Homo sapiens: one gene and its partner. The protein of the gene in region 1 purifies or fractionates together with the protein of each later gene. This does not show direct contact. Each region holds a gene or a part of one and is shown on either strand. Other genes may lie near its edges.

Region 1 (16,692 bases):
GGAAGAACTTTAGGTTTACTCAATAAACAATTCCAGTATCAGGGGGATGTGGGCAAACAAGTGGAAAAGGCCTCCTTTCTTGCTCACAATCGAGTTAGAATGAGACATAGTAATTTTTGGGAAGATGATGGCAAGTACAATGCAAAGTCAACAGAAAGGATGTGTGGGCTCTGCCTTCAAAGGGAAGCTTGTGATAAGACAAGGCCAAGGGCATGGCCGCCAGCCAGGAGAGCTGTACAAACAGATGAGTGAACACACATGAGGCCAAGGCACAGGGCCCTGCACAAGAGGCTGTTGGTCGGGGGTGGGTCTGAGGCCTGTTAGCATGGCATTCAGAGACATCTGGGAAATGACCCTTGACTCTGCTCCACAGAGAGCCATCCGGAAAGCACTGAGGCATGGCAGGCTGGGGCTGACGGCCAGGGCCATGGTCATGCCTTGAGGACTGCCCTCCATTCTGCAATCACACTGTCTGCATGACACCAAGGCTGGAGGCCAATGACGCCTGGCCTAGAGGAAGTTTCTCCTGTACATCCAGACTGACTCTCTAGGGCTAGGGGGCAGGAGGGCTCCAGAGGGCCTGACTTCATCCTCACCTTCACCCTCTCAGTCATTCTCCTCCACACTCAGTGGTAGATTGCTTGTAGTGGTCCAAAAGTCTGGACCTCTATCTGTGCCCCAGAATGGTGCTGATCTCACTGTAGGGGACCCTGACTCTGAAGATTTTCTTTTTCTCCTTTAGACAAAACAAAAACAAAACCCCACAAACCTCAAACCTGTTTTTCTGAAAGAAAGCCAAGAGTATTTCTGAACTTCCCATCATTCCAAGTCTGCTATTAATATTTGTCAATGCACTGGCCAAGCAGATGCCCAGGGGATGCAGCAGGAGGTGGGGCTAGATGAGGATTTGAGATTAATTTGGGGAATATGAACTTCCAAGAGACTGGAAGCCTTTTGGATATTATTCCATGGGTACAGGAGAAAGCAGTGATGGTTTCTGATGACTCTGACAATGGAGTACGGGATGGATGGGAGTGAGTGGAGCCAGGAAAGTCAGTGAGGAGGTGATTCCTTTAACCAACCTTCATTCAGTCTATCACTCTTTTATTCTTTTTGTCATTAAGATATCAATTGAACATCTATTAAGTATGAAACATGGTTCTAGGTTCATTGGGGAACAGAACAAAGCCCTTACCCTTATGGAGCTCACATTTTAGTAGGGGATACAGGTAATAAACAACAAATGTAATAAACAAGTCAGTTGTAGAGACAATTTGAATATGTCTAGTAAAAAGTGGAGCAGGGTAAGATGAATTTGGAGTGCCACTTGAGAGAGGGTATTATATTTTTAAATATATTGTTCACAGGAGGCCTCGCTGAGAAGATAAAATTTGAGCAAAGGATTGGAGGAGGTAGGGAATTAGTTACATGGCTATCTAAAGGAAGGACATTTCAGGCGTGGGGAACTGCCTGGGCAAAGATCCTGAAGTGGGCGTATGTCTGGCATATTCAAGGGATAGTAAGGAGGCCAATATGGCAGGAGTAGAGTGAACCAGGAGGAAGGCAGTAGGAGATGAGGTTCACAGGTAATGGATGACAGATCAAGACTTCTGGGCTACTGCAAGGGTTCTTTCTCTAAGTTAGGGTTTCTCAGTCTTGGCACTGTTGACATTTTTGATCAGATGACTCTTGGTTGTGGGGGAATGCTGTGTGCATTGTAGGGTGTTTAGGAGCATCGGTACTGGCTAGCATCCAATAGATGCCAGTTCCACCCTATACCAGAGTTGTTACAACAAAAAATATCTACAGATATTGCCAGATGTCCCCTGCGGGAGGGGAATAGGGTTACCACAGGTTGAAAATCACTGCTCTAAGTAAAAAGGGGAGACAGTGGAGGTTTCCGAGCAGAGCAGTAACATTTTACATTTACATACAGTAATTTACATTTTTAAAAGATCACTCAGGCTGGGCGTGTTGCCTCATGCGTGTAATTCCAGCACTTCGGGAGGCCGAGGCGGGAGGAGAGGATCACTGGAGGTCAGGAGTTCGTGACCAGTCTGGCCAACATGGTGAAACCACGACTCTACTAAAAATACAAAAATTAGCCAGGTATGGTGATGCACGTCTGTAATCCCAGCTACTCGGGAGGCTGAGGCAGGAGAATTGCTTGAACCCAGGAGGTGGAGGTTGTAGTGAGCTGAGATTGCGCCACCGCACTCCAGCCTGGCATCAGAGTGACAGAGCGAGACTCCGTCTCAAAAAAAACCCAAAAAAACAGAAAAACATCACAGCATGTCCTGTTGAAAATTGCCTTGGGGAGTAGAAACAGGGAGGAACAGGAAAGAAGCAGGAAGTAGGAAAGAAGTAGGAAAACCCTTTAGGGATAATCCAAGGCTTGAACTAATCCAGAGATGTCACAGTGGAGGTGGTAAGAAGTGGTTGAATTTTGATATATCTTGAATATACAGCCCATAAGATGTGAAAGAAAGGAGTTAAGGATTACTGGAAGATTCTTGGTCTACACAACTGGAAAGATAAAGTTACCACAAACTGAGATAGGGGAGACAGTGGGAGAAACAGGTTTTGGGTGGGAAATAAGTAGCTCAGGTTTAAGCATGTGGAGTTTGAAGTGAAACTCCAATAATCTGAGTAAGAGAATATGAAGCACTGAACTGGGCAGTGACAGTATAGTTGGACAGGGTACTTGGTATTCAAAGATAGCCATTGTGATTTTTAAAATGTAGGGTCTGTCACTCAGTTAAAGGAGAATAAAAGGAAGAAGTGGAGGAAGATCTCATTTAATGGCTGGAGTGATGCTAGCAGTAAGACGAGGATGAATCCCTGTACAGAAAAATAGAATTTGTTAGGCCGGGCACAGTGGCTCACATCTGTAATCCCAGCACTTTGGGAGGCCGAGGCGGGTGGATCAAGAGGTCAGGAGTTCCAGACCAGCCTGGCCAAGATGGTGAAACCTCGTCTAGAGATTTTTGTCTAAAAATACAAAAATGAGCCAGGCGTGGTGGCGGGCGCCTGTACTCGGGAGGCTGAGGCAGAGAATTGCTTGAACCCAGGAGGCAGAGGTTGCAGTGAGCTGAGATCGTGCCACTGCACTCCAGCCTGGGCGACACAGCAAGACACTGTCTCAAAAAAAAACAAACAAACAAAATCCCCCACAAACCTGTCATGAGAAACAGGGAAGGGAAAGATGATGGCAGGTCATACCTCTAATCAAATGGGATTTTTTTTTTTTTTTTTTTTTGAGACAGGGTCTCCGGGTCAGGTGCAGAGGCTCACGCCTGTAATCCCAGCACTTTAGGAGGCCGAGGAGGGTGGATCACTTGATGGCAGGAGTCCCAGACCAGCCTGGCCAACATAGCAAAACCCCATCTCCACTAAAAGTACAAAAATTAGCCGTGCATGGTGGTGCAAGCCTATAAGCCCAGCTACTCGGGAGGCTGAGGCAGGAGAATCACTTGAACCCAGGAGGCGGAGGTTGCAGTGAGCCGAGATTGTGCCGCTGCACTCCAGCCTAGGTGACAGGGCGAGACTCCGTCTCAAAAAAAAAAGAAAAAGAAAAACAGAACGAGATGGGGTCTCTGTCACCCACGCTGGAGTGCAGTGGCACGATCTTGGCTCACTGTACCCTCCGCCTCCCACGCTCAAGTGATTATCCCACCTCAGCCTCCCAAGTAGCTGGGACCACAGGCGTACCACCACGTCCAGCTAATTTTTGTATTTTTGGTAGAGACGGGGTTTCGCCATGTTGTCCAGGCTGGTCTCGAACTCCTGGCCTCAAACGATCCACCCGCCTCAGCCTCCCAAAGTGCTGGGATTACAGGCGTACAGGCGTGAGCCATGGCGCCCAGCCCTCTAATCATATTGGATTTAAGGTGTCAATGGGATAGCTGAGAGGAAAGGTCTAGGAGAGAGTTGGCAACACAGCTCTGGTGCTCAGGAGCAGTCAGGAAGCTACAGATAGAAAGAGAATCCCCTCCTCCCAGCAGTTACAGGTATATCAAGGGAGACTCACAAAAAGGAGCCATGAAGGATGCTGAGACTGAGAACGGTCAAAGGCAATCAAGGAAGGCGCAGAGCTTGGAAGATCCAGGTGAGGAGGTTCCAGGAAAATCCAAGTAAACAGAAATTCAATTTAGCTAATGCTTGATTGCAATACCTATAACAATACATGAGGTTATTTTTGTTCAGGCCTAAGGTCTATCCTCTCTGTTAAATTAGAAGTTATAGTTTTTTAAGAGTTGGTTATTTAAACTTACTCACTGCATTCATAAAACCCAAGTTTGTGAAACCAAAAATAATGTTTAACCAGCAAACACAGCACATATCAACTAATACCATACATTACTGTATTTCAGGGAGAATCTGTCCGTACATAAGTTTGTCCATAAAGATGGGTCCCTGGGCTCGATGGACTACAGGGGAGCTTTCTGTGTTATATACTCTTTGCCATCACTGATGATTTATGTATATCCTTGGATTTTGCTAACCTGCCCCTTAGCTGTTTTCCAGACTTAGAAATGCGTGGAAACAAAGATTTTGAAAGCCCTCAATGAGTCATTCATAAATCTTGTATTTATTAAATGACAAGCAGCTTGAACTCTGCCTGATTAAGCCATTCATATGTAGGCAAAACAGACAGAAAAAAAAGAATGTACTCTGACTAAAGGTTACAATTACATTGGAAAAAAATTCCTTCATTTTCAACAGATGGACCCTTCCTTTGATCACCACCTGATTTCAAAAGGCAACAAGCCTTTTTGCAATTCCCTGAAATCTAAATTAGAGATTATGCTGCGATATCTTGACTGAGAAAGCTCAGCTTCCCCCTCTCACCCACTTCTTCCCTGGGAGCATGATCCCAATGTGTGGTAGCCAAAGGTTTCAGAATATGTTTCTAATAACTGCTCTTTGTGCTGCAATTAATTGCCCAGTGCCACCAATCAGATGAAATGCATTTTCCCCTTTCCGTCAAATTTCCCAAATATTCATATTCATTCATTCACTCACAATTCACTCAACCTTTACTGCGTTCCAATTGTGAGTGGTTGCAGCTTTTTGCCTGGCTCCAGGGAGAAGAGGGCAGGTGTGTACAGGCACAGAGAACGGTGCCCTTGCTGCTTTTGGCATTTCAGTGAATTCCAACCCTGATGCTGAGGTTAAAAAAAAAAAAAAACCTCAGTAAAAAATATTCCTAGAAAGCTTTACGGTTTTCCACTTCCAACATACCCAAGAAGAGTGGCCACTCCTGAGAGATGTGCAGGGACAATTCAAGGGTATGCTCTGGGGCAGCTTCTCTCACCACAGAAATAGCACTACTTGTCTCCATACTCTAGCAAGACTTTTAAACAGCAGAGTGATGGCCAGATTATCAGTAAAGGAAGAATGGGAAGCAGAAAGCAACGCGGTTTTCAGTGGCTAGGAGAGAACAAGTTCTTTTCAAACTAAGTTGTACACATCAACTCCCCTTATCTCTCAAACTTTCCCAGCGAAAATACACAGGAGGGAAGGGCACTGACATCAATATTAACCAATTGCCACAAGCCTCGGGGCAGAAGCATTTAACATTGAATGCCACAAGAATCACGAAAACCAACAAGGTTTGTATTTGGAGGTTCCTCTCCTTCAGCTTTAGGGCTGAGCACAAAACAAAAAGGCCAGAAGAAAGAACTGCAGGGTGAAGAAAGCTCAGATTTGCCCGCATGGCACAGTTGTGATGCTGATACCCTGTCTTGGGGGTGAGTGGCTGTGAGTCTCTCCACAGCCCCTAGCATAGTGGGTGGTGCGGATACAATGCAGATCTGAGGGAGTTCCAGTTTACTGAGCCTCGGTTTCTGGAACCGCAACCTCAGATTTGTCGCCCTTACCCCCGTCTCTAGCTATTTCACAGAAGGCTGGACTTTCTGGAGTTATTTGGATTCAACCAACCTTGGCAACCCTACCTACCAAGGAACTGCTCTCCCGCGCCCCCACCCCCTTTTCTCTGGAACAGCTGTTATCGCGTCCTGTGCAAAGAACCTTAAAGGATGACAGCCGTTTGGTAACTCCCATAGTGGAGGAAGAGGGCTGGGGTGGGGGAGTTCGACACCCCATTAGGCCCCACTCAGTACTCCCGGGCGCCCTGCCGGGACCCAGACAATACTCGCAGGATCAACAGCTCTCCTAGCTCCGGAACCCGGTGCGCCAGAGCGGAGAGTCGTGGGAAGAATCACGGCCCTGTCTGGATCGGCCTGTCCCTGGTCGCCCCCCACTCCTCTCGGCCACCCGTCCTTACCTGAGCGTCTCTCCAGATCACGAACCTAGCCGCTCGCTCGCCTACGGGGATCCGCAGCCTGCACGTCCGGCCATCGAAGCTACGCCCCCTCGTGCCCTGTTACGCCCCACATACCAGGGCCACGCCCCTCAATGGAGGCCACGCCCCCACCTGGCAGATCCACGCCCCACTACGTCCGTACTTATTGCCCCGGTCACGCCCAACCAAACTGTGCCAGTCTCTGCCCTCCACCCTGGCCACACCCCTTTAGCTACAGCCACGCCCCTCTCGCCCGGGCCACGCCCCCATTCACCCCTGCTCCCTCCTAGCCCCGCCTCTGCGCTCCCCCTGGGCTCTTCCCTCTAGCCTGGGCCACGCCTCTGAGCCCTGCTCTGGCCCCGCCCCCGCCGGACCAATCCTCCCTCCTCCTGCTCGCCGCTGGCCGCATTAGTGGATTGAAACTAGACCTGGGGCTTCAGAGCCTTATCTAAAAAGTGACTTTCCCTCGGTTCCTCCCATCTCCAAACACCACGACTTTATGTGCTGGGAACAGGTGACTCAGTAGGGAAACAAACACTGAACGTGTCCTTTCCCGCTAGTTTTCATGTCCAATTTACCCGAGTTTCTTTGAGCCAGTTTTTATGTCCTCTGAACTCGAACTGTGGACCCGTGTTCCTTCCAGCCCAATTTTCATATCCTCTAAAGCAGAACTGTGGATGTGTTCCTTCTAGCCTCTTAGCCGACCTTAAATACTAGGCAGATGAGTGGAAAAAACAGAATTCCTCTACTTCCTGATGTCTCCTTCAGATGGGCTTTCCTAAGCACCCAGTGCCCCGTTGCTGCTGAGGGCGTGTGAAGACATCACCCCCACTTTGTGCTTTGAGATTACTCTGCTATCCTTCTTCCCTCAATTTACAACTCTGGGTCCACGTGAAAAATATGAAGAAGCTATAACCAGCTTTCTTCCCCTGTGTACATAAATCTCTGACTCATTCATGCAAATTTCATTTATTGAGTACATGCTCCCCTGACAAACAAGACAAGCCTCAAGAAGCTTACAGTCTGAAGTTGCCCCAACTTGGGTTTGGATGAGAAAATTGGGGAAGATGTGGCAAAAGGTTAATAGGTGGAAAAGGAGTTGGTAATCTCAGGTCATTAGTAGGAATATTTGGGGGTAGTAAACATAGGAAGCCACTTTTATAGTATTTAGTACATTTCTTTACACAATAAATTATCAAAAAATCTTCACTGAATATCTACTCTTCCACATGTATAGAAATATATAATTTCCCCCCTTTGTAGAAGTAAAATTTGCTACTTATATTGCTTCATATGCCAACAATAAAGATTTTACTATCACACAGTTCTTTTTTCTTCTCCTCCCTTGCATTTCTGGCTTGAAGACAGTGAGAATATTCAAAATGTTGGGCTAGAAGGAACACAGAGAAAAGAACAACTTTCAACAGAACACTTTCATTATGCTCGCCCTGACCCTGAGAACTCTGCCTCATTTATAAAATGTTTCAACTGTCAGTCATTTTTTGCCTGAAAAATGAATTCACAGAAATTGGTCCAAATACAGTCTATATAAATTACTGAGTTTATTTTTATACAAGTAGTTCTACTTCACCTTCTTCCACAAATGATTTGAGGCAGCGTCCTAAAATATAGACATTAGTAGATTTAAAAATAGGGGAAGGAACCAGTGAAAGGAGAGCTTAATGGAAGGAGAATGATGTGGCCAATGATAAGATTAACATTTAAGTTTGCACTCCATCAGATCCAGAACAGTTGTCAGAAGTAGGCCAGAAATTTGACCCTAACTAAGCTGTTGAATAGCCATAGAAAAGAGGAAATAGCAATCATTTTTAGGTTTTTACTGTTCATAAGATAAAAACTGGCTTTTTTTCTTTTCCCTTTTTTTTTTTTTTTTTTTTGAGACAGAGTTTTGCACTTGTTGCCCAGGCTGGAGTGCAATGGCGCGATCTCAGCTCACTGCAACCTTCGGCCCTCAGGTTCAAGCGATTCTCCTGCCTCAGCCTCCTGAGTAGCTGGAATTACAGGCATGCACCATCATGCCCGGCTAATTTTGTATTTTTAGTAGAGATGGGGTTTCTCCATGTTGGTCAGGCTGGTCTTGAACTCCCGACCTCAGGTGATCCACCCGCCTCGGCCTCCCAAAGTGCTGGGATTACAGGTGTGAGCCACTGCACCCGGCCTTTTTTTTTTTTTTTTTTTTTTTAATGGAATTTCACTCTTGTTGCCCAGGCTGGAGTGCAATGGCATGATCTCGGCTCACTGCAACCTCTGCCTCCCGGGTTCAAGTGATTCTCCTGCCTCAGCCTCCCAAATAGCTGGGATTACAGGCGCCCGCCACCATGCCCAGCTAATTTTTGTATTTTTAGTAGAGACGGGGTTTCACCATGCTGGCCAGGCTGGTCTCGAACTCCTGGCCTCAGGTGATCCACTTGCCTCAGCCTCCCAAAGTGCTGGGATTACAGGCGGGAGCCACCGTGCCCGGCTGTTTTGTTTTTATAGAAGCAGTTTTTCTTGAATTTTAGTCCTGAGAGAAATACAGTTTCCTCATAAAGATGATGTAGTGAGCCTAGTGGGAACTATGTGTCATAAGGAGTGACACCCAAATCCCCTCAATGGAAACTGTTGGCACAATCACAAAGCACAGTGCATTAAATCAATTCTATGAATTGGCCAGGCATAGTGGCTCAGGCCTGTAATCCCAGTAGTTTGGGAGGCTGAGGCAGGAGGATTGCATGAGCCCACGAGTTAGAGACCGGCCTGGACAACATGGTGAAGCCCCATCTCTACAAAATTAGCTGAGTGTGGTGATGTATGCTTGTAGTCCCAGCTACTTGGGAGGCTGAAGTGAGAGGATCATCTGAGCCTAGGGAGGCTGAGGCTGCAGTGAGCCGTGATCACACCACGGCATTACAGCCTGGGCAACAGACTGAGACCCTGTATCAAAAAAAAAAAAAATTCCATGAACCATCAACATATTTCTGTTCACTTGAATACACAAGCCCTCAATGGTCTGGCTTAATCCAGGGTAGCATTTAGATCATCTTTCCCCAGGATGGCAAATAGGTTTCAACTCACATGTTAACTCTGAACTATTTGTAGTAGCTGCCTGAATAACTATGTTGAGAAGTTTGGGGGCTTTGTCCAGGCTCAGAAAGAAAAAGTTCTGTACTCAGTTAACAATGCTGTGGGTGCAGGATAGGTAAGTGGCTGCATGCAATAACCTACCTGGTACCTCTGCTTTGTAGAAATAGAGGTCTTGCATGCAGAACTTTGTGCAGTCACTCAAAATCAACAATTCTCGTGGCCAGGCGCAGCAGCTCATGCCTGTAATCCCAGCACTTTGGGAGGCTGAGGCGGGCAGATCACCTGAGGTCAGGAGTTTGAGACCAGCCTGACCAACCTGGAGAAACCCCATCTCTACGAAAAATAGAAGATTATCCAGGCATGGTGGCACATGCCTGTAATCCCAGCTACTAGGGAGGCTGAGGCAGGAGAATTGCTTGAACCTGGGAGGCAGAGGTTGCAGTGAGCCGAGATTGCACCATTGCACTCCCGGCTGGGCAACAACAGCGAAACTCCGTCTCAAAAATAAATAAATAAATAAATAATTTCTCACCACAGGGTTTTTGATAAATACCAGAGTGTAGAGAGTTCCAGGTCCCTTTCTCACTCTGATCCACCTATACTGGTCTTCCCATGTTCATTCCTGTCTCTGAACATTTTCTTTTGTTGTTCCCATTGTTTGGACCACTCTTTACTCGGATCTTTACATGGCTGGAGTTTTCTCATTATTCAGTACTTAGCTAAAATGTCACCTCTTTAGATATGTTTTTCCTGACAACCATATCTGAAGTTGTATCCAGAGCCTCTCAATCTGCACTGTGCCCAGAGATCACCCGAAGATCATGTTACAATGCAGACTCTGATGCAGTGGTTCCGCGATGTGACTTGAGATTCTAGATTTCAAGCATGCTGCCAGGAGATGCAATCCTGAGGTTCTATAAGACACTCTGAGGCTGGCACGGTGGCTCATGCCTATAATCCCAGCACTTTGGGAGACCGAGGCAGGCAGATCACCTGAGGTCAGGAGTTCGAGACTGGCCTGGCCAACATGGCGAAACACTGTCTCTACTAAAAATACAAAAATTAGCTAGGCGCGGTGGTGGGCACCTGTAATCTCAGCTACTCAGGAAGATGAGGCAGGAGAATCACTTGAACCCAGGAGGCGGAGGTTGCAGTGAGCCGAGATCACGCCATTGCACTCCAGCCTGGGTGAGAGCGAGACTTCGTCTCAAAACAAAACAAAACAAAACAAAACAAAAAGACACTTTGAGTAACAGCTTCACCTCTCCATCTCTATTACCTATTTTATTTTCTTCATAGTGTTTCTCAGTATTTGAAATTATTTGATTATTTGTTGGTTGGTTGTTTACTATAATGTAAATTCCCTAAGAGCAGGGACTCTGACCAATTTGCCCAACTTTGTACTCCTGGCAGTTAACACAGTACCTGGGGCATCAGCAAATACCCTTTAAATATTGCTAAATGAATAATTTTATGATTCATTAATTCCTTTATCTGTTCAGTGACTGCTTAGTTATATGCCAGGAACTAAACTATAAATGATAGAAGGCAGTGCTACTCAAGTGCTAGCCTATGAACTGCTAGGTACTCTGGTTCAAGCTGAGATAAGCTTGAACTAGAATGTAAAATCTGATATGTCATTAAACACAGTGGTTATTTAGGATGTCATATTTTTTCTTTTTTCTTTTTTTTTTTTTTTTTGAGACAGAGTTTCACTCTTGTTGCCCAGGCTGGTATGCAATGGCTGATCTCGGCTCACTGCAACCTCCACCTCCCAGGTTCAAGTGATTCTCCTGCCTCAGCCTCCTGAGTAGCTGGGATTACAGGCATGCAACACCATGCCCAGCTAATTTTTTGTATTTTTAGTAGAGACGGGGTTTCACCATGTTGGTCAGGCTGGTCTTGAACAGCTGACCTCAGGTGATCCACCCACCTGGGCCTCCCAAAGTGCTGGAATTACAGACATGAGCCACCGCACCTGGCCAGGATGCCATATTTTTTCATAGCCAGGCTTTCTTGATCTGATTAGTAGGATATTTCTGGGCAGCAAACACAGGAAGCCACATTTATAGTACTTACTACAGTCTTTTACACAATAAATCTTCACTGTTTGTATGCCCTTTTTACTTGTGTATAGAGCTACACTTTTTCCCTCTCATAGCAGCAAGATTTGCTACACATAATTCTTCATCTACCAGCAATAAATATTTCACTTTTATTTTTTTAAACAGTAAAGATTTTAGAATCACATATTAGTTCCCTTCTTTTCCCACCTTCTGTTCTATTTCTGCCTTGAAGACAGTGGGAACATTCACAAAGTTGAGCTAGAAGGAGCACAGAGAAAAGAACAATTTTTCAACAAAACATTTTTATTAAGTTCACCCTGACCCTGAGAATTCTGCCTCATGTATAGAAAATGTTTCAAATGTAAGACATTTCTTGCCTGAAAACAGAAACAAAAATTGGGACCAAATATGGTTTGTATTAAGTTACTGTGTTCATTTTTATGTAGTTAGCAACAGCTCATCTTCTTCCACAAATGATTTGAGGCAGTTTCAAAATTAAAGACAATATTGGATAAAAGAAATAGCTGAAGGAACCACGGAAAGGGAAGTTTAAAGGAAAGAGAATAATGCAGCCAATGATAAAATAAACAAGTCACCAAGCCTGAACTTTTTCCTTCTTAGCACAGAGGAAAATGTCCTTGCTAAAGGTGGGCCAGAGATTTGGCTCTAAGCTTCTGAATGCCCATAGCAAGAGAGAATCACCATCATTTTAAGGTTTTCCAGTGTTAATAATATATATAATTGAGACAGAGTCTCGCTCTGTCGCCCAGGCTGGAGTGCAGTGGCATCATCTTGGCTCACTGCAACCTCCTCCTCCTGGGTTCGAGAGATTGTCGAGCCTCAGCCACCTGAGTAGCTGGGACTACAGGCACACGCCACCATGCCTGGCTAATTTTTTTTTCTTTTAGTAGAGATGGGGTTTTACCATGCTGGCCAGGCTAGTTCTTGAACTCCTGACCTCAGGTAATCCATCCACCTCAGCCTCCCAAAGTGCTAGGATTATAAGGTGTGAGCCACTGCACCCAGCCCAGTGTTCATAAACTAAAAGCCAGAGTTTTGTTTGCTTGTTTGATTGATTTTGAGAACTACAGTTTTTCTTGATTTTCAATGCCAAAAGAAACCCTGAATCCTCAGAAAGATAAGGTTGTGAGCTAAGTGGGAAATAAGTGTCCTAAAGAATTACACAGTTTCCTTCAATGTAAGCTATTGTTACAATCACAAAGCACAGTCCATTAAGTCAATTCTATGACTATACAAACCTTCCTGTTCAACTCCATAGACTGTACACACGTTGGGAATTGTTGGGAGAAAAGCTGAGTGTTGGGAGAAGCTGATGCAGGGCTTGCATGTCTGACATAATGTAAAAGAGTCTTGGACCATGTCCGGGGTCCATGGTCTAAAACCCCTTGTGGCCTCTGGAACACCAAGCTCTGTGCTAAAGGGTGGAAGGCTACCCTGCTGCACCATAATCTAAGCCTAGGGCATAAAACCCCTCCTGCTTAGATAGAATCCAGGGCTCAGGGCATAAAACCCCTCATGGCCCTGGAATGTGTCTAGACTTGCTGGCTCCTTGCTCTCCTAGGAGCGATTGTATCTTGAGTTAAAAGAACCTGCTCTCCGTTATCTCAAGTAGCAGAGCATATGCTAAACCATCACAGCTGTAAATCATGTGCTTAATGCAACGCTCCTTTTCAACCCCACATTCTCACCACCTGTTTCTTTGTTTGATCACCAATAAATAGTCTGGGCTTCCAGAGCTCGGGGCCTTCACAGCCTCCATACTTAGTGATGGCCCCCTGGTCCCACTTTCTCTCTCAAACTGTCTTTTCTCATTCCTTTGAGTCCGACGGACTTCATCTCCCCCAAGACCTGGTGTTGGGTCCAATCACCCCAACAGGGAATGGTCTGGATTAATCCATGGTAGCATTTAGGTTATTATTCCCCAGCATGGCAAGTAGGTTTCAATTTGCATGTCAACTCTGATCCATTCATATTAGCTGCCTAAATAAACTGTGTTGTGAAGTTCTGTGGCTGAGTCCATGCTCAGAAGGAAAATGTTCTGTGACTGATTAACAATGTTTATCGTGGGTACAAGATGCGTGAGTGGCTACCTACAACAACCTATGTGACATATTTGATTTGTAGGAATGGAGACCTTGCATGCAGGTCTTTTACAGTCCTACCAAAACAACATTTCTCATTACAGCACACTTGATAACTATCACTTGGTAGAGAATTCAAGGTCATTTTCACGGGCCAAAACCTAAGGGCAGAAATGTTGAGGTGTTGATTAATTTATACGCTTTGTATACCAACCAGGAGGAACTTAGTTTAAGGTTCTGTTATGAAAATGAGAGCATCTAAACAAAGTGGCACGTGATCTAATGCCCCCTCTACCTCGTTCTTTCTTTCTTTTTTTGTTTTTTTGAGACAGTCTTGCTCTGTCACTCAGGCTGGAGTGCAATGGCACGATCTCAGCTCACTGCAACCTCCACCTCCCGGGTTCAAGCAATTCTGCTTCAGCCTTCCAAGTAGCTGGGATTTCAGGCGTGTGTCACCACGCCCAGCTAATTTTTTGTATTTTTAGTAGAGATGGGGTTTCACCATGTTGGCCAGGCTGGTCTCCAACTCCTGACCTCAGGTAATCTGCCCGCCTCAGTCTCCCAAAGTGCTGGGATTACAGATGTGAGCCACCGCACCCAGCCTCCTCTACCTCTATCTCTTTGTAAAGTATGGATGGACAAGGCTGAACACTTTAGGGTAAACTCCAACCAGGCAGCCAAATAAGTGATTAAAGACTGAAAATCCTAACTCCATGCATGGCTGCATGAGTTTTTAGCCCAGAAAAATAAGCATTATGTGCCAAGACCATGGAAAACTTTCAATATAACACCAAGAAGCAGTGTAAATAATTGAGTATCTAGGAGAAAATATCAGAAGAGTCAATACAGTCTTGCTTTGACTACATGGGACTCATTATTCCTTATTGGGAATCATTCACAGAATGAGACACAAAAAGACAGATGCTCATGCATTCCATTTAAGAAACTGTCCTTTAAATTTCCACTTTATAAATATGTTGGCAAAATGACACTCACTCAGTTTCTCTGAGTTAATTTTTATTTCCAAACAGTAGTAATTAATATTCTCTGAAGTAAAAAAAATTAGCCTGTGAAAAATAAGTCAAAGTTCATAACAGTTATGGCTGTTAATTAACCTACAAAATTTGGTGAGCCTTTTGAATATGCTAGTTTCATAAGATTTTCTCATCTTAAAATAGGGCATTCCAACCTGAGCAATGTGGCAAAACCTCATCTCTACAAATAATAAAAAAATTGGCCAGGCATGGTGGCGCATGTCTGTAGTCCCCGCTACTCAAGAGGCTGAGGTGGGAGGCTCGCTTGAGCCCAGGAGGCAGAGGTTTCAGTGACCCAAGATGGCGCCGCTGCACTCAGTCTGGGTGATAGAGTGGGACCTTGTCTCAAAAAAAAAAAAAAAAAAAAGACATAAAATATCAGGATGAAGACAAAAACATTCCAGGATTCTTTGTTTATGATCGATTCTGGAAGTTGGGTTTTTGTTTGGTTTTCTTTGTTGTTGTCGCTTTTAATCCTAAGCTAGGAATGAGAAAAAAAAATCAAATATACCTCAAGACACTTCATTTCCAACAGTTTTGGGCTTCTTAGAACTTCAGTTTATGATGAAGACTAGTCAATTCAGTTATATTCGACAATCAAATAATCATGGGCTATGAAAAATGCAAAAATGAACCAAATATAGTCCCTGTCCTCCAGGAACTTACAATTTGCAGGACACAAAAGTAAATCATGTCAGCAATAGATGCATGTACAAATGTGAACAAAATGCTATGGGAGCACAGGACAAGGAAAGGATGAAGTTACTAGATGTGACAAGTCACTTATAAAGCTATAACTAAAGCAAAAGCAAAGAAAGGTTTCTCAAAGGAGGTGATAATCAGGATAGACCTGGAAAAATGGCAGGAAGTTTAAAGGTAAAAAACGAAAGCCCACAGGATTCAAGTTAAGGCAATCTCCTGAAAACAAACATAAAGGACAGAAGTGGGACACGGTGACTCTGACTCGCAGAGACTTGCTTATTACCTGGGTGACAAAATAATCTGTATACCAAACCCCCACGACACACAATGTAACTATATAATAAACCTGCTCATATACCTCTGAACCTAAAATATCATTAAAATGGCCATACTGCCCAAAGCTATTTACAGATTCAATGCTATTCCTATCAAACTATCAATGACACTCTTCACAGAACTAGAAAAAACTATTTTAAAATTCACATGGAACCAAAAAACGGGCTAAATAGCCAAGGCAATTCTAAGCAAAAAGAACATCGCTGGAGGTATCATATAATCTGATTTCAAACTATACTACAGGGCTACAGTAACCAAAACAGCATGGTATTGGTACAAAAACAGACACATAGACCAATGGAACAGAATAGAGAGCCCAGAAATAAGGCACACTTAAAACCATCTGATCTTCAACAAAATCGACAAAAAAAAAAAAAAAAAAAAAAAGAAGAGCAAAAGTATTCCCTATTCAATAAAAGGTGATGGGATAACTGGCTAGCCATATGCAGAAGACTGAAACTGGACCCCTTCCTTACACCACATACAAAAATCAACTCAAGATGGATTAAAGGCCCAAATGTAAAGCTAAAACTATAAAAATCTGGAAGATAACCTAGGAAATATCATTCTGGACATAGGACCTCACAGAGATTTCATGATGAAGTCTCCAAAAGAAACTGCAACAAAACCAAACATTGACAAATGGGACCTAATTAAACTAAACAGCTTCTGTACACAAAAGAAACTATCAACGGAGTAAACAGACAACCTACAGAATGGGAAAAGATATTTGCAAACTATGTATCTGACAAAGGTCTAATATCCAGAACCTGTGAGGAACTTAAACAAATTTACAAGCAAAAACTAAACAATCCCCCATTAAAAAGTGGGCAAAGGACATGAGCTAACACTTTTCAAAAGAAGACATACACATGGTCAAACAGGCATATGAAAAAAACCTCGACATCACTAATCATTAGAGAAATGCAAATCAAAACCACAATGAGAGAACATCTCACATCTATCAGCACTGCTATTATTAAAAAGTCAAAAAATAACATTCTGGTGGGGGTGTGGAGAAAAGGGAACACTTATATGCTGCTGGTGGGAAATTAGTTCAG
Region 2 (16,254 bases), on another chromosome or scaffold:
TGGATGCCAGGAAGGGGGAATGACTTAGATGCTAATTTACTATCTGCTAGAAAGCAAATCAAAGGCTGAAGGAAAGAATTTGTGAGGGTTCCAACACGCAAGGAATAAACTCATGAGGACAAGTCCCAGAGATGTTCAACATGGAAGCATTATAAGTGTAGAAAAGAAAGGCTCTTCTTAAAACACACTCTTCTTAATGTAGTGACAATGACATTTAATAAACATGGTATTGAAGTGGTATCCAGGAGCTTATTTGCCTCAGTGGTCCTCAACCCTGAATTAATAGGGGGTACCCAAGTCCCATCCCCCAAAATTCCAATTCAGCTGGTAGAGGGGGAGCTTGGCCATAATTTTTTTCAAGCTCCCGTATGATTCTAACATGTAGCCAGGGTGAAGAATCACTGCAACCCTTATTCTAAGTCAGTGTCTTCTAAACCATGGTCACCGATCACCTTTTTGCACTCATTTGGGTTCCTGTTCAAAATTTAAGTTCGGAGGGTTCTGCCCCTAAGGTAAAGAAATCTGCGCTTTTAACTAACACTCCCAGTGATTCCTGAGCAAAGAATGCTCTAAATGAGTCTCACTTTGTTTAAAATAACATTTTCAATTGGTTTTCTATTATTCTTTGGTATAATGAAATAAAGATATTTTGATAGAAGTAGATTGGCTATATTTGTGATTATTCATTAAGACTCAATATCTGTGCCTGGCATAATCCACAATGGTTGATCCATACAGAAACAACCCAGATCGCCACCATTTATTACACACAGAGGCAGCCACCAGAAGTGCCGGCCTAGCTCTTAGGAAGAAGTAATAGGTTTTTGGATTCCCAGGCAAGATGGCAGAACAGGAACAGCTCCGGTCTGCAGCTCCCAGTGAGACCAAGGCAGAAGGCAGGTGATTTCTGCATTTCCAACTGAGGTACCCGGTTCATCTCATTGGGACTGGTTAGACAGTGGGTGCAGCCCATGGAGGGCCAGCAGAAGCAGGATGGGGCGTCGCCTCACCTGGGAGGCGCAAGGGGTCAGGGAACTCCCTCCCCTAGCCAAGGGAAGCCATGAGGGACCGTGCTGTGAGGGATGGTGCTATCCAGCCCAGATACTATGCTTTTCCCATGGTCTTTGCATCCGACAGACCAGGATATTCCCTCGGATGCCTACTCCACAAGGGCCCTGAGTTTCAAGCACAAAACTGGGAGGCCGTTTGGGCAGACACCAAGCTAGCTGCAGTTTTGTTTTTTTTTTCATACCCCAGTGATGCCTGGAACACCAGTAAGACAGAACTGTGAGAGACACTCCCCTGGAAAGGAGGCTGAAGCCAAGGAGCCAAGTGGTCTTGCTCAGTGGATTCCAACCCCACGGAGCCCAGCAAGCTAAGATCCACTGGCTTGAAATTCTCGCTGCCAGCACAGCAGTCTGAAGTCGACCTGGGATGCTGGAGGTTGGTGGGGGGAGGGGTGTCAGCCATTACTGAGGCTTGAGTAGGCGGTCTTCCCCTCACAGTGTAAATAAAGCCACAGGGAAGTTCGAACTGGGCAGAGCCCACTGCAGCTCAGCAAAGCCACTGTATCCGGACTGCCTCTCTAGATTCCTCCTCTCTGGGCAGGCATCTCTGAAAGAAAGGCAGCAGCACCAGTCAGGGGCTTATAGATAAAACTCCCATCTCCCTGGGACAGAGCACCTGGGGGAAGGGGTGGCTGTGGGCGCAGCTTCAGCAGAATTAAACCTTCCTGCCTGCCGACTCTGAAAAGAGCAGTGGATCTCCCAGCATAGCGCTTGAGCTCTGCTAAGGGACAGACTGCCTCCTCAAGTGGGTCTCTGACCCCCATGCCTCCTGACGGGGAGACACCTCCCAGCAGGGAATGACAGACACCTCATACAGGAGAGCTCTCGCTGGCATCTGGCAGGTGCCCCTCTGGGATGAAGCTTCCAGAGGAAGAAGCAGGCAGCAATCTTTGCTGTTCTACAGCCTCCACTGGTGATACCCAGGCAAACAGGGTCTGGAATGGACCCCCAGCAAACTCCAGCAGACCTGCAGAAGAGGGGCCTGACTGTTAGAAGAAAAACTAACAAACAGAAAGGAATAGTATCAACATCAACAAAAAGGACGACCATGCAAAAACTCCATCCAAAGGTCACCAACAGCAAAGATCAAAGGTAGATAAATCCATAAAGATGAGGAAAAACCAGCATAAAAAGGCTGAAAATGCCAAAAACCAGGACGCCTCTTCTCCTCCAAAGGATCACAACTCCTCGCCAGCAAGGGAACAAAACTGGACAGAGAATGAGTTTGATGAACTGACACAAGTAGGCTTCAGGTAATAACAAACTCCTCCGAGCTAAAGGAGCATGTTCTAACCCAATGCAAGGAAGCTAGGAACCTTGATAAAAGGTTAGAGGAATTGCTAACTAGAATAACCAGTTTAGAGAAGAACATAAATGACCTGATGGAGGTGAAAAACACAGCATGAGAACTTCGTGAAGCATACACAAGTATCAATAGCTGAATCGATCAAGCGGAAGAAAGGATATCAGAGATTGAAGATCAACTTTATGAAATAAAGCATGAAGACAAGATTAGAGAAAAAAGAATGAGAAGGAAGGAACAAAGCCTCAAGAAATATGAGACTATGTGAAAAAGACCAAAACTACGTTTGATTGGTGTACCTGAAAATGACAGGGAGAATGGAAACAAGTTGGAAAACACACTTCAGGATACTATTCAGGAAAACTTCCCCGAACTAGCAAGATAGGCCAACATTCAAATTCAGGAAATACAGAAAACACCACAAAGATACTCCTCGAGAAGAGCAACCCCAAGATCCATAATTGTCAGATTCACCAAGGTTGAAATGAAGGAAAAAAATGTTAAGGGCAACCAGAGACAAAGGTCGGGTTACCCACAAAGGGAAGCCCATCAGACTAACAGTGGATCTCTCGGCAGAAACTCTACAAGCCAGAAGAGTGTGGGGGCCAATATTGAACACTCTTAAAGAAAAGAATTTTCACCCCAGAATTTCATATCCAGCTAAACTAAGCTTCATAAGTGGAGGAGAAATAAAATCCTTTAGAGACAAGCAAATGCTGACAGATTTTGTCACCACCAGGCCTGCCCTACAAGAGCTCCTGAAGGAAGCACTAAACATGGAAAGGAACAACTGGTAGCAGCCACTGCAAAAGCAACCCAAAATGTAAAGACCATCGACACTATGAAGAAACTGCATCAACTAACAGGCAAAATAACCAGCTGTCATCATAATGACAGGATCAAATTTGCATATAACAATATTAACTTCAAATGTAAATGGGCTAAATGCCTCAATTAAAAGACACAGATTGGCAAACTGGATAAAGAGTCAAGACCCATCAATGTGCTGTATTCAGGAGACCCATCTCATGTGCAAAGACACACATAGGCTCAAAATACAGGGATGGAGGAAGATTTACCAAGCAAGTGGAAAGCAAAAAAAAAGAAAAAGCAGGGGTTGCAATCCTAGTCTCTGATAAAACAGACTTTAAACCAACAAAGATAAAAAAAAGACAAGGGCATTACATAATGGTAAAGGGATCAATGCAACAAGAATAGCTAACTATCCTAAATATATATGCACCCAATACAGGAGCATCCAGATTCATAAAGCAAGTTCTTAGAGACTGGCAAAGAGACTTAGATTTCCACACAATAATAATGGGAGACTTTAACACCCCACTGTCAACATTAGACAGAACATTAGACATTAGACAGAACAATGAGACAGAAGATTAACAAGCATCTTCAGGACTTGAACTCAGCTCTGGACCAAGCGGACCTAATAGACATCGACAGAACTCTCCACCCCAAATCAACAGAATATACATTCTTCTCAGCACCACATAGCACTAATTCTAAAATCGTACACACAATTGGAAGTAAAACTCTCCTCAGCAAATGCAAAAGAATGGAAACAATAACAAGCAGTCTCTCAGACCACAGTGCAATCAAATTAGAACTCAGGGTTAAGAAACTCACTCAAAACCACACAACTACATGGAAACTAAATAACTTGCTCTTGAATGACTGCTGGGTAAATAATGAAATGAAGGCAGAAATAAAGATGTTCTTTGAAACCAATGAGAACAAAGACACAACGTACCAGAATCTCTGGAACACAGCTAAAGTATGTGTAGAGGGAAATTTATAGCACTATAAATTTCCCACAGAAATAAATGCCAACAGAAGAAAGCAGGAAAGATCTAAAATCAACACCCTAACATCACAGTTAAAAGAACTAGAGAAGCAAGAGCAAACACGTTCAAAAGCTAGCAGAAGACAAGAAATAAACAAGATCAGAGCAGAACTGAAGGAGACAGAGACACAAAAAAACCCTTCAAAAAAATCAATGAATCCAGGAGCCGGTTTTTTGAAAAGATTAACAAAATTGATGGACTGCTAGCTGGACTAATAAAGAAGAAAAGAGAGAAGAATCAAATAGACACAATAAAAAATGATAAAGGGGATATCACCACTGATCTCACAGAAATACAAACTACCATCAGAGAATCCTATAAACACCTCTTCACATATAAACTAGAAAATCTAGAAGAAATGGATAAATTGCTGGACGCATACACCCTCCCAAGACTAAATCAGGAAAAAGTCGACTCCCTGAATAGACCAATAACAAGTTCTGAAACTGAGGTAGTAATTAATAGCCTACCAACCAAACAAAGCCCAGGACCAGATAGATTAACAGCCAAATTCTACCAGAGGTACAAAGAGGAGCTGGTACCATTCCTTCTGAAACTATTCCAAACAACAGAAAAAAAGGGAATCCTCCCTAACTCATTTTATGAGGCCAGCATCATCCTGATACCAAAACCTGGCAGAGACACACACACAAAAAGAAAATTTCAGGCCAATATCCCTGATGAACATCAATGCCAAAATCCTCAATAAAACACTGGCAAACCGAATCCAGCAGCATATTACAAAGCTTATCCATCACAATCAAGTCGGCTTCATCCCTAGGATGCAAGGCTGGTTCAACATGTGCAAATCAATAAACATAATCCATCACATGAACAGAACCAATGACAAAAACCACATGATTATCTCAATTGATGCAGAAAAGGCCTTGGATAAAATTTAACACCCCTTCATGCTAAAAACACTCAATAAATTAGGTATTGATGGAACATATCTCAAAATAATAAGAGCTATTTATGATAAACCCACAGCCAATATTATACTGAATGGGCAAAAGCTGGAAGCATTCCCTCTGAAAACTGGCACAAGACAAGGATGCCCTCTCTCTCACCACTCCTATTCAACATAGTATTGGAAGTTCTGGCCAGGGCAATCAGACAAGAGAAAGAAATAAAGCATATTCTATAGGAAGAGAGGAAGTCAAATTATCTCTGTCTGCAGATGACATGATTGTATATTTAGAAAACCCCATCGGCTCAGCCCAAAATCTCCTTAAGCTGATAAGCAACTTCAGCAAAGTCTCAGGATACAAAATCAATGTGCAAAAATCACAAGCATTCCTATACACCAATAACAGACAAACAGAGAGCCAAATCATGAGGAAACTCCCATTCACAATTGCTATAAAGAGAATAAAATACCTAGGAATCCAACTTACAAGGGATGTGAGGGACCTCTTCAAGGAGAATTACAAACCACTGCTCAAGGAAATACAAGGGGACACAAACAAATGGAAAAACATTCCATGCTCATGGATAGGAAGAATCAATATTGTGAAAATGGCCAAACTGCCCAAAGTAATTTATAGATTCAATGCTATTCCCATCAAGCTACCATTGACTTTCTTCACAGAATTAGAAAAAACTACTTTAAATTTTATATGGAACCAAAAAAAAAGCCCACATAGCCAAGATAATCCTAAACAAAAAGAAGGAAGCTGGAGGCATCATGCTACCTGACCTCAAACTATACTACAAGGCTACAGTAACCAAAACAGCATGGTAATGGTACCAAAACAGAGAGATAGACCAATGGAACCGCACAGGGGCCTCAGAAATAACACCACACATCTACAACCCATCTGATCTTTGACAAACCTGACAAAAACAAGCAATGCGGAAAGGATTCCCTATTTAATAAATGGTGTTGGGACAACTGGCTAGCCATATGCAGAAAACTGAAACTGGACCCCTTCCTTACACCTTATACAAAAATTAACTCAAGATGGATTAAAGACTGAAATGTAAGACCTAAAACCATAAAAACCCTAGAAGAAAACCTAGGCAATACCATTTAGGACATAGGCATAGGCAAAGACTTCATGACTAAATCACCAAAAGCAATTGCAACAAAGCCAAAATTGACAAATCAGATGTAATGAAACTAAAGAGCTTCTGCACAGCAAAAGAAACTATCATCAGAGAGAACAGGCAACCTACAGAATGGGAGAACATTTTTGCAATCTATCTATCTGACAAAGGGCTAATATCCAGAATCTACATGGAACTTAAACAAATTTACAAGAAAAAAACAAACAACCCATCATAAAGTGGGCGAAGGATATGAACAGACACTTTTCAAAAGAAGACATTTATATGGCCAACAAACATATGAAAAAAAGCCCATGATCACTGGTCATTAGAGAAATGCAAATCAAAACTACAATGAGATACCATGCCAGTTACAATGGCAATCATTAAAAAGGCAGGAAATAACAGATGCTGGAGAGAATATAGAGAGATAGAAACGCTTTTACACTGTTGGTGGGAGTGTAAATGAGTTCAACCATTGTGGAAGACAGTGTGGCGATTCCTCAAGGATCTAGAACCAGAAATACCATTTGACCCAGCAATCCCATTACTGAGTATATACCCAAAGGATTATAAATCATGCTACTATAAAGACACATGCACATGTATGTTTATTGCAGCACTATTCACAATAGCAAAGACTTGGAACCAACCCAAATGTCCATCAATGTTAGTTAGACTGGATAAAGAAAATGTGGCACATATACACCATGGAATACTATGCAGCCATAAAAAAGAGTGAGTTCATGTCCTTTGCAGGGTCATGGATGAAGCTGGAAACCAGAAAACCAAACACTGCATGTTCTCACTCATAAGTGGGAGTTGAAAAATGAGAACACATGGACAGAGGGTGGGGAACACCATACACTGGGGACCTGTCGTGGGGTCTGGGGCTAGGGGAGGAATATCACTAGAAGAAATACCTAATGTAGATGACGGGTTGATGGGTGCAGCAAACCACCATGGCAGGTGTATACTCATGTAACAAACCTGCACATTCTGCACATGTATCCCAGAACTTAAAGTTAAAAAAAAAAAAAAAAAAGAAATAATAGACTTTCTAAGATAAACTCAGAAACTTAAAACCTACAAAAGGAGGGGAAACCTTAGAAATGGTTACTCTTCATTGTGTTTAGTCCCTGAATTTGCTTAAACTCCATTTTTCAGTTATCTAATACATGTACCTTAATTGATCCAAGGGCCCCAATGGCTACTTCAGGTGGCATTATCACTGGTTTGGCAAAGGTACCACCAATCTATTTTTTAAAAAAAAAAAAAGGAGAGTATTAAAAGTTAAGATTTTTCAGGGAACAAATGCCAAGTGACTTTTCTATTTTTAATTAAGCATATGATCAGAAACCTTAAGTAATGGTTTATGTATTTCAACATTATTACTCACTGATCCAATGTTGGAAAGAGTAAATGTTCCTCCTGTAAGATCAGTGGTGCTGAGCTGACTCACAGAGCCCAATTTCTGGAGGCGGTTCAGTTCAGTGGCGATGTCAAATATAGAGCAGATCTGAACATTTTTCACATTAGGGACAATCAAACCCTGCTCAGTATCCATTGCTATCCCAATGTTATGAGAAGCCTAAAAAATAAAAAATTGTACAGTAGGGCTTTTAATGAATAAGCTAACAGCAAAGAAAGGATCAACCTTCACTGCCATCTAGAAACCACTACCAAAACTCATTTTTACCAGATTGGTAGTGATTTAAAAGAAATAATTTAAAAATAATTTTTAAAAGATTTTTTGGGCTAGGCGCAGTGGCTCATGCCTGTAATCCCAGCACTCTGGGAGGCCAAGGTGGCTGGATTACCTGAGGTCATGAGTTCAAGACCAGCCTGGCCAACATAGTGAAACCCCATCTTTACTAAAAATACAAAAATTAGCATGGTGGCACAGGCCTGTGATCCCAGCTACTCGGGAGGCTGAGGCACGAGAATCGCTTGAACCTGGGAGGTGGAGGTTGCAGTGGGCCGAGATTGTGCCACTGCACTCCAGCCTGGGAGACAGAGTGAGACTCTGTCCAAAAAAAGATGATAATTTTTTATTGATAAGAATGTAGGCAATAGGCTATTTCCCAACATCGTTAGTGGGAATGTAACTGGTACAGGTTGAGCATCCCTAGTCCAAATATCTGAAATCTGAAATGCTCCAACATCTGAAACTTCTGGGGGCTGAAATGACGTCATGTGATGTAGCCAATTTCCTTGAAAACTGATTTATCACCCTGAGTCAAGATCCATCTTCAGAATTCTGTATACTGACAAATATAGAAATGTAAAGATTTTATTTTCAATTTATTGGATGGATTAAGCACCTCAGCATTCCTTACTATGTGATAAAATACATATATAATAAAAAGTATATTCAATATTTTGTCCTTAAACATTATGCTGCATAGTTGTTGAAACAGTTCTCATTTTATAATATTTAATCATATCAGAGCCCATCAATAAAAAAAAAAGAGAAAAATGCAGCCATTGTTCTGGCAGGGCATAGTGGCTCATGCCTATAATCCCAACACTTTGGGAGACTGACACAGAAGGATTGCTTGAGGCCAGGAGTTTGAGACCAGCCTGGGCAACATAGCAAGACTCCATCTCTACAAAAAAATTTTTTTTAATTAGCTACAAAAATTTTTTTTTAAATTATGGCACATGCCTATAGTCTCAGCTACTTGGGAGGCTGAGGTGGGAGGATCATTTGACCTCAAGAGTTTTAGGTTACAATAAGCTATGATTATGCATGGGTGACAGAGCAAAACTCTGTGTCAAAAAAAGAAAAAAAAAAAACTTTGTGGCCGGGCACAGTGGCTCACGCCTGTAATCCCGGCACTTTGGGAGGCCGAGGCGGGCGGATCACGAGGTCAGGAGATGGAGACCATCCTGGCTAACACAGTGAAACCCCATCTGTACGAAAAATACAAAAAGAAATTAGCCAGGCGTAGTGGCAGCCTCCTGCAGTACCACCTACTCAGGAGGCTGAAGCAGGAGAATGGCATGAACCCAGGAGGCAGAGTTTGCAGTGAGCCGAGATCGCAGCACTGCACTCCAGCCTGGGCCACAGAGCAAGACTCTGTCTCCAAAACAAAAACAAAAAAAAACAAATCCAACTTTGTTTCATGCACAAAAATGTTAAAAATATTGTATAAAATTACCTTTAGGCTATGTGTATGAGGGGTAAATGAAACATAAGTGAATTTCATGTTTGCACTTGAGTCCTGTCCTCAAGATATCTCCTTTGTATATGCAAATATTCCATAATCCAAAAAAATCTTAAATCCAAAAACGCTTCTGGTCCCAAGCATTTCAGGTAACGGATACTTAAACTGTAGAGACTTTCTGGAGAACATATGACAACATGAACCAACATTTATAAAAATTCGTGTTAAGGAACTAAGTGCAGAAGTATGTAGGGATACACAGGGATGTTGAGTACACACTGTTTATAAGTTTGAGAAACTGCAAATAATCATGATGTTTATAAATAGGTCACTGGCTAAATAAATAACAAAGCTATACTTGTTGACAATGATGTCTACAATATAGTAAATGAAAATGAAGAGGCTGGGCACAGTGGCTCATGCCTGTAACCCAGCACTTTGGGAGGCTGAGGTGGGTGGATCACTTGAGCCCAGGAGTTAGAGACCAGCCTGGGCAACATGGCAAGACCCCATTTCTACAAAAAAAAAAAAAAAGTACAAAAATTAGCTGGGCATGGTGGCACGTGCCTATAGTCCCAGCTACTCAGAAGGCTGCGGTGGGAGGTGGACACTGCAGTGAGGCGATGATTACACCACAGCATAGATATTCTCTATGGGGAATACTTTAGATAGGCAACAGAGCAAGACTCTGTATCAAAAAAAAAAAAAAAAGAAAAAGAAAAAAGCAAGTTAAAGAAAATATAAATAATTCTATATCTTGTAAAAAGTATGTAAAAATGAAATCCTAGAAAGATGTATATCTCAACATAAACAGTGAGCTATCTTAGGGTCATGGAATTGAGGGTAAACATCTTTGTTTTCTTTTTTCTTTTCTTTTCTTTTCTTTTTTTTTTTTTGACAAAGGCAGGGTTTCACTTTGTCACCTAGGCTGGAGTGCAGTGGCATGATCACAACTCACTGCAACCTCCATCTCCCAGGTATCATATGATTCTCCTGCCTCAGCCTCCCAAGCAGCTAAAACTATAGGCATGCACCACCATGCCTGGCTAATTTTTTTTTTCTGTAGAGATGGGGCCTCCTAACTTTGTTGCCCATGCTGGTCTTGAATTCCTAGGCTCAAGCCATCCTCCTACCTCTGTCCCCCAAAGTGCTGGGATTACAGGCAGGAGCCACCACACCCGGCCAACATCATTTTCTTGCCTGAAATTTTTTTAATAAGTATATACTTAATCAGGAGATATTAAAATTAAAATTAATACAGCTGACTGTATTAACCGTATGGGAGCTGACCTCCCAGAATATCTAAGCTCACTTTCTGGTTGTACATGTCTTTTCTTTTTTTTCTTTTTTTAATTCTCTTTTTGAAATGGAGTTTTGCTCTTGTCGCCCACGCTGGAGTGCAGTGGCACAATCTTGGCTCACTGCAACCTCCGCCTCCTGGGTTCAAGCAATTCTCCCACCTCAGCCTCCTGAGTAGTTGGGACTATAGGCGCTGGCCACCACGGCTGGCTAATTTTTGTATTTTTAGTAGAGACAGGGTTTCACCATGTTGGCCAGGCTGGTCTCAAACTCCTGACCTCACATGATCCACCCGCCTCAGCCTCCCAAAGTGCTGGGATTATAGGCGTGAGCCACCGTGCCCAGCCTCTGGTTGTGCACTTCTAATGATAAGTAAACTTCAGGAAAGGCATCTCAAAAAGAGTTTTCGGTCTTAAGAAACTTTCACTACTCACAGAAGAGTTTACTCAAATTGAATTCAAACTTTTATTATTTTTCTCACTTAAATTATTCTTAATATTAAAATTCCAGGAATTTGCCAGGCACAGTGGTTCATGCCTGTAATCCCAGCACTTTGGGAGGCTGAGGCAGGAGGATTGCTTAGACCAGAAGTTCAAGACCAGCCTGGGCAACATAATGAGACCACGTCTCTACAAAAAATTTAAAAATTAGTTGGGCATAGTGGCGCATGCCTATAGTCCCAGCTACACAGGAGGCTGGGGCAGAAGGATTGCTTGGGCCTGAGAGGTTGAGGCTGCAGTGAGCCACAATCACAACACTGCATTCCAAACTGGTGACAGAGTGAGACTCTGCCAATAATAATAATAATAATAAGAAGAAGAAGAAGAAGAAGAATAAGAATAATAATATTAAAATTCCAGGAATTCAATTTTGAAAGAGCTGCTTCTTTTTGAGAGGGTAAGTAGAGTGGGTAACATAATCTGCCATACAGCTATGTATTTCCATTATTTTAAGCAGGAAAAAAAAAAGCTTAAAAATAGTTTTAAGAATCTCTAAACAGTATTATTAACACAAAAACAACAACAATGAATTAGACTTAAGTTTAATGTTTTACCCCATACCTTTAATTCTAGTCTAAAAAAGATCACTATTTGAGGTACAATAGAAGTCTCTAATCTACAAGCACATTTGCCCCATCTTCTATTAATAATAAGAACATTTTTACTCTGCATAGCCAACCTTATATGTTATATTCTGGCAGTTTTCATCCACAGAAGCGTTAAGGATAGGAAACTGTAGTAATCCCAAGGAAGCAGCCTGTTTAACAGAAAAAGAATGCAATTTTAGTACTTTTAACTTAGAAAGGATAGAGAATTTGAAACAATAAGAGGTATAAAAGGAGGGAGAGAGAGAACTCTTATTTATGCTGAGTTTAATTTCAAGTCTACATGTACCTAGTCACATTACTGCCAATGTTACCTTCAGGCCATGTGGAACTAGGTCACCCTAATCATTAAAGAATAAAAGATAAAGTAGTCAGGTAGCTTGTAAACATCAAGGAGATTTTCAAAATAATGATACAGACCAGCCAAAGTTCCAAAGAAAATGTCTAAATTCTAGGTGATTTCCTCACTGACATGTTGATCTTAAGATTTCCATGAGAAGTAATACTAGGAATCAAAACACAAAAAAAGCAGGTAAGCTATTTCTCTGTGTGGAAAGAACACGTAACGAGGATTTCAAAGCGCACTGACCAGTAGATGCCAGTTTGCTACTTGGTGTCCTTGGCCAGCTGAAGGGCAGAGATGTCCTGAACATTTACTTTACAGCTCAAGTCTCACTGAATAGCATTTATATTTTCCCTCTCTGCTGCCTTCTCCCTTTTGTCACTTAATACCATTTCTCTCCTGTCCATATTCAGATTTCCCTAACTGTACCCAAAATGTTCTTGATAATCTGTTTTTGGGATCTAATAATCAAGTTTCATACCTTACATGTGGTGGCCATGCATTGTATTGAATTTAAAAGATAGCAAAATAAAAATGCTTAAGATCATTCTTAAAAAGAATTCCCTCCCCCACTGCCCTTGTCTGGTCCCTGTTAAAGTTCTTTACATGCATTGTGTTATTCTTCTCAGTGCATCGGGGTCTTGATGGGAAAAAAATCAAATTCTTGAACTAGAGAGTTAAGAAAAAAGTTTAAATATATAGAGACATTTCATTTTCATTAGTTAGGACAGGTTAAGAGAGTAGATCAACTGAAGAAAAATATAATTAAAAGAACTGCTACGAGTTCCTTAATTTTTATGACTTGGAAGTTTTTCTTGTTTGTTTTTGAGACAGGGTCTTTCTTTGTCACCTAGGCTGCAGTGCAGTGGCATGATCTCAGCTCACTGTAGCCTCAACGTCCTTGGCTCGAGTGACCCTCCTGCCTCAGCCTCCCGAGTAGCTGGAACTATAGGCGTGTGCCACCATGCCCAGGTAACTTTTGTATTTTTTGTAGAGATGGGGTTTCACCATGTTGCCCAGGCTGGTCTTGAACTCCTGAGCTCAAGCAATCTGCCTGCCTTGGCCTCCTAAAGTGTTGGGATTACAGTCGTGAGACACTGCGCCCAGCCAACTTGAAAGTTTTAGTAAGCATTTGATTCAATAACTGTAATTTTAATAGTCTTTATCTAAAAACCCCTAAGGTTAGTCTAAACTGTTACATATAAAAATATTTGAGTATAATCCAAATTTTGTCCAAGAAAATACAAGGTATGTGTCAATGGATTAGGTCATTTGTTCCCCCTCTACAATACTGTGTAGTATTTTTTCGAATGTTCTGAAACTTATGTTTTATTTTAAAACAAAATAGCCAGGCATGCTGGCTCATCCCTGTAAGACCAGCCTGGGCAGCACTGCGAGACACATCTCTACTAAGAATAAAAAAAAATTAGCCAGGTGTGGTGGTGCACACCTGTGGTTCCAGCTTCTCGGGAGGCTGAGGCAGAGGATCACTTGAACCCAGGAGTTCAAGGTTGCAGTGAGCTGTGATTGTGCCACTGCACTCCAGCAGCCTGGGCAACAAAGTGAACCCTTTCTAAAAAAAAAAAGAAGAAAGAAAGAAAAAGGGAGATAAAGAAGAATAGTTTCTGCCTCATGAGGCTCAGCGCCCAGTAAGTGAGTAAGTGAAGAGAAAACTGAGTAAGCACTCAATGCACTGAGATAAGTTAACAGTGGGAAACAAAAGTATTTAATTCAAATAGTGACAGCCACAGAAGGAGTCTGTACCTGACCACAGTTTGGGATTTGCAGGTGTTTGATCGAGAAGAACGGGCACTTCAGGTGGAATTGTGTATTCCAGCAATTATGGGTACCTTAATATGAGGGAGTGAGGTAAGAATGGAGAGGCAGGCAGCAGAGACTTATAACACATTTGTATGCCACACTAAGGAGTATGGCATACAAATTATCCTGAAGGTAATGAAAGGGAACCACTGAAAAGAATCAGAGAATATTACAGTAATTTGATTTACGGAAGACCAGTCTTGGTGCAGTGTAGAGAAAGGACTGGACATGTTGGCATTACAGACATCAGTATGTCCTTCTGAGTAAAACAGACCAGAACCTGAAAGAGCTTCTCCACCTGTTAGCTGTAAGTCCTTAACAAGTTTCTCAACCTCTCTGAGCCCCAATTTCCTTAAATGGAAAGTGGAGACAGTAATATTTACATGTCAGGGTTACTCTGAGAATTAAGAGATAATGGGCCCTGCCCCGCGTCTGCCTCAGAGGGGCCCGAGCCACCCGGGGCGTGCGCCGCGTCCCCGCCGGGGCCGACAGAGCCGAGCCGGGCCGCCATGGACCACAAGACTCTGCTGCAGGAGCGGCCGCCCGCCTACAACCTGGAGGCCGGCCAGGGCGACTACGCGTGAGGCCCGCACGGCTACGGCGCCATCCCCGCCGCGCCCCCGCAGCCGCCCTACTCCTACCTCGTCACACGGACACCCACCCACCATCCCAGGGTCTACAACATCCACAGCTGGACCGTCATCCGCTATCCTACCAACTCTATCGTGGTCGTGGGAGGCTGTCCCGTCTGCAGGGTCGGGGGGCTGCAGGACTGCTTCACCTTCCTGGGCATCTTCCTGGCCATCATCCTGTTCCCCTTTGGGTTCATTTGCTGTTTTGCCTTGAGGGAGCGAAGATGCCCCAACTGTGGAGCCACCTTCGCTTAAAGGGAACACCAGGCTCGGCCTTTCCTACACCCAGCTCTCTTTTTCTAATGTAAATGTTGTGTTCAATAGTTTTATTTGATTAAGCTTCAGGACTGTTTTGTAAAGCGAGGTGGGACCGATGTGGCACACGCCAGCTGCGGTTTCCCGGAGCGTGGAGAGGCAGCGCTGCTGCTCCTGCCCCAGGCTCATGACAACTCAATGAAGCACTGCTTTTATTTTTTGCAGTCTTCAATTTGAGAAAGGTGAGAAATAATCTTTTCAATAAATGAGATTCATACCAAAAAAAAAAAAAAAAAAGAGAGAGATAATGTATACAGCATGCTTACTATGGAGGCTGGCACATGGTAGCTGCTGCACAGTCACTAATGTGAGCTAGACTGTATGCTGCTCAAGGTTAGCTGATGGTCTTACTCCATTTTATACTGGTCCCAAGGCTTAGCACTAGAAATGATTCCCAGGATCCTCAATATAAGTTGGTTGAGTAAATGAAAATAAATATTAAATATATGTCAGTGATATTGCAAAATTAATATCAAGTCTCATTTTAGTTCAAACCAAGACTTGGTTGGAGTGATCCTTTTAGGATCAGAGGCTTTACTTAACTGGCAGAATTGTCTCTACCTAGCTCAAAGATAAGCAGCTAAAAATATAGTACAGAAATCTCAATTTTATAATTTCCTATTGAACAAAGAAATGGCACATTTTCTAACTATCTGATGTTGCGAAAAGTAATATTTTTATTCAAGGCCACAGTCAACATATTGCATGTTGGCAAAGCAAAATTTAAATGTCCTACTTGGGGCCAGGTATGGTGGCTCACGCCTGGAATTCCAGCACTTTGGGAGGCTGGGGCGGGGGTGGATCACCTGAGGTCAGGAGTTCAAGACCAGCCTGACCAACATGGCGAAACCACGTGTCTACTAAAAATACAAAATTAGCCAGGCGTGGTGGCAGGTGCCTGTATTCCCAGCTACTCAGGAGGCTAAGGCAAGAGAATTGTTTAAACCCGGAAGGTGGAGGTTGCAGTGAGCCGAGATTGTGCCATTGCACTCCAGCCTGGGTGACAAGAGCAAAACTCTGTCTCAAAAAGACAAACAAACAAATAAATGTCCTACTCAAGCCTTGTTTGAAATGAATGAATCTCACCTTTAAGAAGAAAGGCATAAAGGAGAGTTTAATTCCACGAGCAAATGCAATGGGTTTTAATTCTTCTCGGAGCTTAACCAGTTCAGTAAGGTCAATCTCATCACAATAACCAAAATGAGGTATCTTCAGGGCTGCAGACATAGTCTTGACCATTGCTTTTTGAAAGCCTGAAAAGCATTAAATTGTTATTCATTTATTTAAATTC

The links.
Region 2: the proteins of CA5B (region 1) and DBT purify together in Homo sapiens (affinity purification with mass spectrometry; 2 studies listed by BioGRID and IntAct, with this or other methods). This does not show direct contact.

The regions. Positions count from the first base shown.
Region 1 is NC_000023.11:15,727,950-15,744,641, reverse strand, and holds the start of CA5B (carbonic anhydrase 5B, mitochondrial precursor), read right to left. Parts: upstream 6,373-16,692; 5' UTR 6,290-6,372; intron 1-6,289. UniProt on the Homo sapiens protein: Mitochondrial carbonic anhydrase that catalyzes the reversible conversion of carbon dioxide to bicarbonate/HCO3.
Region 2 is NC_000001.11:100,198,768-100,215,021, forward strand, and holds part of DBT (lipoamide acyltransferase component of branched-chain alpha-keto acid dehydrogenase complex, mitochondrial isoform 1 precursor), read right to left. Parts: intron 16,217-16,254; coding exon 16,050-16,216; intron 15,184-16,049; exon of another isoform or gene 14,456-15,183; intron 12,358-14,455; exon of another isoform or gene 12,273-12,357; intron 12,005-12,272; coding exon 11,927-12,004; exon of another isoform or gene 11,926-11,926; intron 7,870-11,925; coding exon 7,678-7,869; intron 7,535-7,677; coding exon 7,463-7,534; intron 2,035-7,462; exon of another isoform or gene 1,876-2,034; intron 1-1,875. UniProt on the Homo sapiens protein: The branched-chain alpha-keto dehydrogenase complex catalyzes the overall conversion of alpha-keto acids to acyl-CoA and CO(2).